Homo sapiens: one gene and its partner. The protein of the gene in region 1 interacts with the protein of each later gene in a pairwise test. Each region holds a gene or a part of one and is shown on either strand. Other genes may lie near its edges.

What was found.
Region 2: the proteins of MAP4 (region 1) and NOP58 interact in a two-hybrid assay, tested with the Homo sapiens proteins (one large-scale study listed by BioGRID).

Annotation. Positions count from the first base shown.
Region 1 is NC_000003.12:47,911,739-47,915,745, reverse strand, and holds part of MAP4 (microtubule-associated protein 4), read left to right. Parts: intron 1-806; coding exon 807-929; intron 930-3,324; coding exon 3,325-4,007. UniProt on the Homo sapiens protein: Non-neuronal microtubule-associated protein. Promotes microtubule assembly.
Region 2 is NC_000002.12:202,268,530-202,272,536, reverse strand, and holds part of NOP58 (nucleolar protein 58), read right to left. Parts: intron 1-4,007. UniProt on the Homo sapiens protein: Required for the biogenesis of box C/D snoRNAs such as U3, U8 and U14 snoRNAs. Part of the small subunit (SSU) processome, first precursor of the small eukaryotic ribosomal subunit.

The DNA of each region.
Region 1 (4,007 bases):
TTGTCCTGTTTTTCTTGCAGATAAGTCAAGCAATAAAATAGAACATCGACAAACTTCTATTCCATTATCTACCCAACTACTTGTATCTGTATCCATGGTCTCTGCTTATGAAAGTTCCCGTTTTTATAAGTAAACTGTTCCTGCTCCTAATTAAGACCAACCTCTCCTCATTTTGCCCTAGATTCCATCTCCTCTTTCCTACTCGATATATTGCCCCATGTATTCTTCCCTTTTTTGCCCCTCATACCAATTTAAATCTTTTTTCATTGGATCATTCCCACCCATTTAACAAACGTTTGTTATTTTTCCCATCTTAAAAAACGAAACATTGACCGGGCATGGTGGCTCACACCTGTAATCCCAGCACTTTGGGCGGCCGAGGTGGGCGGATCACCTGAGGTCGGGAATTCAAGACTAGCCTGACCAACATGGAGAAACCCCGTCTCCACTAAAAATACAAAATTAGCCGGGCATGGTGGCGCATGCCTGTAATCCCAGCTACTCGGGAGGCTGAGGCAGGAGAATCACTTGAACCTGGGAGACGGAGGTTGTGGTGAGCCGAGATCGCACCATTGCACTCCAGCCTGAGCAACAAAGAGTGAAAAACTCCATCTCAAAAAAAAAAAAAAAAGTAACATAACTAGACATACCTTCCCAACTTCAGCTTCCAACTACCACTTCACTCCTTTGCTGCCCCTTGTAGGAGAACTCCTCAGAAACTAATCCCATATCCAATTTCTGGCAGATGGAAAATAGCTGAAATCATGCTTCTCTGAAACGTGTGTGGCTTTTGTTATTACCTTTAGAAACCGTCACAGGAACGGGGAAAAAGTGCAGCTTGCCGGCCGAGGAGGATTCTGTGTTAGAAAAACTAGGGGAAAGGAAACCATGCAACAGTCAACCTTCTGAGCTTTCTTCAGAGACCTCAGGTAAGTTAGGAAAACAAAATGAACTCTTTGAAACAAATTAGGGGCGATAGAGTAGTGATGGTAGACATTGTCTCTAGTTCCCTGTTGTATGGTGGTAATCAGCAGTATAGTTTATGAAGTCAATTCTCTTAGACAGATTTTATCTGGTTTAGACAGAATGTCAGCTTGTTATATCTTTAAAAATTACTACTACAGCAAATCAGGATACCTAATTTTTTTTTTCTCCACTGTTTTTTTTGTTGTTGTTGTCGTTGTTTTTTTTTTTTTGAGACAGAGTCTCACTCTGTCGCCCAGGCTGGCGTGCAATGGCGTGATCTTGGCTCACTGCATCCTCCACCTACTGGGTTCAAGCGATTCTCCTGCCTCAGCCTCCTGAGTAGCTGGGATTACAGGCGCCTGCCACCATGCCCGGCTAATTTTTAGTAGAGATGAGGTTTCACCATGTTGGCCAGGCTGGTCTCAAACTCCTGACCTCTGGTGATCTGCCCACCTCAGCCTCCCAAAGTGTTGGGATTACAGGCGTGAGCGACCGTGCCTGGCCTTCTCCACTGTTTTCATAGTGAAGAAAGGACACCCAAATTTTGATCTGGTTCAGCTATTCACTATTCTATCCTGTGTGGTCTTAAGCAAGTTACATAACTTGCCTATATCTCAGTTTACTTAGCTATAATATAAATTAATTGGTCAAATGTTCTCTAAAGTCTTACTAGTTACAGTGTTCCATGGCCCAACAGCATCTACATTACCTGAGAGGCTGGTAGAAATGCAGAATCTTGGGCTCTACCTTAGGCCTTTGTAATTATTATCTGCATTTTAATTAGATCCCCAGATAATTCTAATTTTCATTAAACTTTGAGAGGTACTGCTCTAAGATACTTTCCAATTTAAAGTTTGATTATTCAGTGAATTTGAAGATTACCTGTTTTTAATAACCCAGAAGCATATGTATATGATTATCAACTTGATTTTCTGTTTACTTTTCTGTGACTATGATTGGAATGTGGACATCCTGACATATGGGACATAAGGGCCCATGACTTATTTCACTTAGAATCTCTAATGCTTTGCACACTACCTAGCACAAGACTAGAGCTTAAATAAATGTGTGATTTTTTTTTTAAATGTTGTTTTACTGACTCAACAAATCAGTAAAGATTTATCAAGTGCTTATGGTATACAAAATACACCATGTTAAGGCATATAGATATTTAAGTCCCCGTCCTTGCCCCCTGAATTATTATATTATAACCTGAATGAAGAGATAAGTTCTCAGGCATGAACTCTGAAACCCAAGATTTACATAATAATTGAATAAAATAGTATAAAAGATGGCACTGAATAGCTGCTGATTAATTGCTGAATTAAATGTTATAAATACTGGGGGATACTATAGCCTAGCAATTTTTTGAGCGATGCAATAATTAACCTGAGATATTAAACAAAGGCTAGGATTTAGAGGATATTGGAGGGGTAAGGACAAGAATGAAATCCACTATTTACATATTATAATATTCTTGGAAATCAATTTATTGGGTCAGACTTGACAGGAGCTGGCATATACCTGCTCTTAATGAGACTCTTGCCAGGATCTTGGATCCATATTATATTAACTGGGAGGAAGGTTAGACCAGATCACCTGCTGAAACTCTTCCAAAGGTACTCATCTTAATTGTTAAAATTAATTATCCTACTTAACATTATATATATTTCTCTGTCTTTTGGGAAGTACATTTAGGAGCAGAATGTTGAAATTTAACATATTTGTCTTTCAAAGTAGGATGCTCTGGTTCTGGAATCATGAGAATTTTTCTCTGACCAAAATGTGGATTCAGTATATTTTGTGTGTGTGCGTGAAGTGACTTAAGTCTGGCCTTCTGATCTAGTTCCCAGAATCTGTCTGGTTTGTTTGACAAGTATTAGTTTAATATTGGTGACCTAGTCTTAGAATTATAAATTTTGTCCAAAATCATGTATATTTAACTGAAGCAATTAATAAATTTCACCAAAAAGAGGCAAGCACTAAGAATGACCAATATAAATCAGATGAGATTTACAGGCAGTAAGTGCTTATTTTTAGAGGTTAAAAGATGTGAAATGTTTCATTTTTAAAAGTTCAATCCTGCTACTTCTGAAATTTCAAATATTTTATAAATGTTTGAAAACAATCTTTACCTGAGATGATGATCTGTTAAATATTTTTGCTAGCGCCAGTTAAAAGTGAGAAATGTTTTAGAAAAGACTGTTTTCCTGAGCAAATTACAGTAAGTACTATATGTATTAGTGAAAATAGCCTCCTTAAATTAGTCATTTATATGGTCTGGTTTTTTTGTTTGTTTGTTTGTTTTTTGTTGTTTTTAAGAAACAATAACGAGGAGTTTTTTGTTTGGAATTTTAGCCAACTTCATGTATTGCGGTACCCCTCCCACACAAGCCAAACAAGTTTGCAGACCCAGTGACCGCAGGTCAACCCGGCCCAAGCCTGCCAGGGTCCCTCCTGAGCTGCTGGGAGGCTCTCCTCCATGGAAGACTCTTGATCACAGGCTGGGCCACTGCTCTTTGTCTGAGTCAGGTTGGGTCTCTGGTTCATCCTCCTGTGGTGGGCCTGGGAACCAAAGAAAAAGTATTCATGTTGACTCACTTGAACCCCAGAGGGATCTTGGCAGGGAGGCCTGGGATATAGAAAGCACACCAATAATGATGAAGAAAAAGAAGAAGAAACCAAAGCAAAAGAGATATTCTCAACCACGGGCTGGAGGACCTTCGGATGATGACAATGCAGATAAGCCTAAAGGTCATCCATTTGCAGCTGACACACAAAAATCAGGTGTTCTCCCCAGCCAGCCTACCACTATGGGTACAGAATATGGACTTGTATCTGGAGAAAACTTGAAAAGGGAATGTTTAGTTAACTCCAGTGCAGCCAGACTGGTAGCTGAGAACTTTGTCTCAGAGAGTCTCAGAATTCCTTTATATCCTTCTGAAGAAGCCCCCAAAACTGCAATAAGTTCTCAGTCTAAGCTGAGAGTAGAGGAAGAGAGCAAAAGTAACAAGTCAGTACTACAAAACCAAGACAAGAAA
Region 2 (4,007 bases), on another chromosome or scaffold:
GCTTTGTGTGACTCTAAGTTTTTCTAGTTTGGGTTATTTTTACCAACATATCTAATTCAACCATGTGTGATTAAATTTATACAGGCTGGGCACGGTGGCTCATGCCTGTAATCCCAGCACTCTGGGAGGCTGAGGCGGGCGAATCACGAGGTCAGGAGATCGAGACCATCCTAGCTAACACGGTGAAACCCCGCCTCTAACTAAAAATACAAAAAAATTAGCTGGGCGAGGTGGAAGGCGCCTGTAGTTCCAGCTACTCGGGAGGCTGAGGCAACAGAATGGCGTGAACCCCAGGGGGCGGAGCCTGCAGTGAGCTGAGATCGCGCCACTGCACTCCAGCCTGGGCGACAGCAAGACTCCGTCTCAAAAAAAAAAAAAAAAAAAAAATTATACATCAGAACAAACCCCTAAAATCATCTTGTCACTCATCTAAGTTTTATACAACTTGCAACATTGTGTTTCTCTTACTGAAAATAATATATAACCAGACTAGAACTGCGTCTTAATGTGTAGATGTGCTATATTATGGACTTGATAAATAATGCTTATTAGCAAAGTATAGTTTTAAATTTACTAGCTGTGTTGTTTTTCCAGAGACAGGGTCTCGCTTTGTTGTCCAGGCTGGAGTGGAGTGGTGTGGTCCTATGTCACTACAGCTTCAAACTCCTGGCCTCAAGCGATTCTTCTGCCTCGGCCTCCCAAGTAGCTAGGACTATAGGTGCACACTGCGACATCTAGCTCTTTTAAAAATCTTTTTGTAGAGACAGGGGCTTGCTTTGTTGCCCAGGCTGATCTCTAACTTCTGGACTCAAGTGATCCTCTTGCCTTGGCCTCTCAAAGTGCTGGGAGTGCAGGAAGGAACCATGGCGCCTGATCCAGCTGGTTTTTTAAATAAAAATATATGCATAATATCTGTGCATACTCTATTTCACAAAATTTAACATGCTATTCTTTTTTTTTTTATTTTTGAGACGGAGTCTTGCGCTCTGTCGGCCAGGCTGGACCGCAGTGGCGTGATCTCAGCTCACTACAACCTCCACCTCCCTGGTTAAAGCAACTCTCCTGCCTCAGCCTCCCAAGTAGCTGGGATTACAGGCACATGCTGCCATGCCTGGCTAATTTTTTTTTTTTTTTTTGTATTTTAGTAAAGTCGGGGTTGCACCCTGTTGCCCAGGCTGGTCTCGAACTCCTGAGGTCTGGCAATCTACCTGCCTCAGCCTCCCAAAGTACTGGGATGACAGGCGTGAGCCACCACACCCAGCTTATGTTATTCTTTTACACTCCCAATTGACCTGTCATCAATTGTAAGACATCCCAATTTTAGGGATGTTAAATATGGGGGTTGTGCCTTTTAGGATTGAGCCCATCCTATCTAATACTTGGGCAGCTGATACAGAATATTGGTGAGGGTATATGGAATTAAGAATTTTAATCACTTTTTTTGTTTTTTTTTGAGACAGTGTCTCGCCCTGTCACGCAGGCTGGGGAGTGCAGAGGCGCGGTCTTCTCACTGCAACCTCCACCTCCCTGGTTCAAGCGATCCTCCTGCCTCAGCTGGGACTACAGATTTGGCGACACACACCACCATGCCCGGCTAATTTTTGTATTTTTAGTAGAGACGGGGTTTCACTATGTTGGCCAGGCTGGTTTCAAACTCCTGACCTCATGATCTGCCCACCCCAGCCTTCCAAAGTGCTGGGATTACAGGTGTGAGCCACCATGTCCAGCCTCCTCATTTTCATTTTTAATTGATTGCTTGAGACTTTGTGTGGTTTTTGTTTTGTTTTGAGATGAGGTCTCACTCTGTTGTCCAGGCTAAAGTGCAGAGGCTCAATCACAGCTCACTGCAGCCGTGACCTCCCTCCCACCTCAGCCTCCTGCAGCAGCTGGGACTACAGGCAAGCACCACTGTGCCCAGCTAATTTTTTTTCCGCCATGTTGCCCAGGCTGGTCTGCAACTCCTGGGCTCAAACAATCCTCCTGCTTCACCCTCCCAAAGTGTTAGGGTGACAGGCGTGAGCCACTGCACCCAACCTCTATGTTTTGTGTAAATTATTTGATGCTAACTTTTAAGTTTCACTTCCACAGACAATATGAGCAAGTTAATATTTTATGAAACTTGTTTAAATACAGGATAAAACTGATAATTAGTTTAAAATGTGCACTGCTCAAAAAGAAACAAATCCATACACGCAACAAATGTGAAAAAGCTCTTCGGTTAGCTTCAGAAGCATTACACTAAGTGAAAAAAGCCAAACACAAAAGACTAAAATACTACTCCACTTACATGAAACTTCTAGAAAAAATTATGCAAAAAGAAAGCTGAACAGTGGTTGTCTAGAGCAGGACTAACTTGAAAATGGGCATGAGAACTTTTTGCAACAAAGTGTACTATAAAACTGGATTGTAACTAAAACCTATAGGTGAGTTATACAGTATGTAAAGTACACCCAATAAAGTTAGAAAAAATATATTGCTCAGTACTTAGGTTTTATATAGACATTTGGTATGTACATCAAAAATCTTTCTCCAAACCTTGAGAAAATGAAGTGACACAAAATGCTATGCTACACAGCTACACTGTACAATATAACCATTAAAATTCAAGTAAGTTAAAATTCACTTCCTCAGTCCTATCAGTTACATCTCATGTGAAATGGTTATACGTACTAATGGCTACCACATGGAAGAGCAGCTGAAGGAAGTCTGGTATGAGCAAGACTAAAATCTTATGCTGTGTGCCACGTGACACAAGGACACAGGTGGAATTTCTTTTTTTCTTTTTTTCTTTTTTTTGAGACGGAGTCTTGCCCTGTCGCCCAGGCTGCACTGCAGTGGCGCGACCGCAGCTCATTGCAACCTCTGCTCCTAGGTTCAACTGATTGTCCTGCCTCAGCCTTCCAAGTAGCTGGGGTTACAGGCGTGAGCCACTGCTCTCGGCCACAGGCTGAATTTTTATAATATCCTAGAATTAATCACAACAGTTCCTTTACACAATGTCTTTACATTTATATATATATAACCCTGTTAATGAGCAATAACTTTTTGGAAGTGTTTTCCTTTTGAATCGCTCTAAACACATAAGTGGGCAGAACACCGTACCTCATGGCTGTAATCCCAGCACCTTGAGGCCAGGAGTTTGAGACCAGCCTAGGCAACATAGTGAGACTCTGCCTCTTAAAAAAAAAAAAAAAAATTTAGGCCAGGCATGGTGGCTCACGCCTGTAATCCCAGCTACTTGGGAGGCTGAGGCAGGAAAATCGTTTGAACCCAGGAGGCGGAGGTTGCAGTGAGCCGAGATCACACCACTGCACTCCAGCCTGGGCAACAGAGTGAGACTCCATCTCAAAAAATAAATAAATACAAATACAAATAAATAAATAATTAGCCAGGCATGGTGGCTTGAGCCTGTAGTCCCAGCTACTCGGGAGGAGGTGGGAGGATCACTTGACCCAGGAGGCCAAGGCTGCAATGAGCCATGATCCTGCCACTGCACCCCAGCCTGGGTGACAGAGCAAGACCCTGCCTCAAAATAAATTTTAAATACATAAACATGAATTTGTATGTGTACATGGGTTATACATAAAATGTTTTCCTCACTGTAAATGGAAGTTTAAAAAAAACTTCAAGGCCAGGTGCAGTGGCTCACGCCTGTAATCCCAGCACTTTGGGAGGCTGAGGCGGGCAGATCACCTGAGGTCAGGAGTTCGAGACCAGCCTCAACATGGAGAAACCCTGTCACTACTAAACATACAAAATTAGCTGGGCGTGGTGGTGCATGCTGGTAATCCCAGCTACTCGGGAGGCTGAGGCAGGAGAATTGCTTGATCCTGGGAGGCAGAGGTTGTGGTGAGCCAAGATCGCGCCATTGCACTCCAGCCTGGGCAACAAGAGTGAAACTCCGTCTCAAAAAAAACAAAAAAACAAAAAACTTCAAAAAACTTCCTAAAGCATTCTCATCAAAGCATGAATTATATGCATCCAATATAATTTTTTTTTTTGAGACG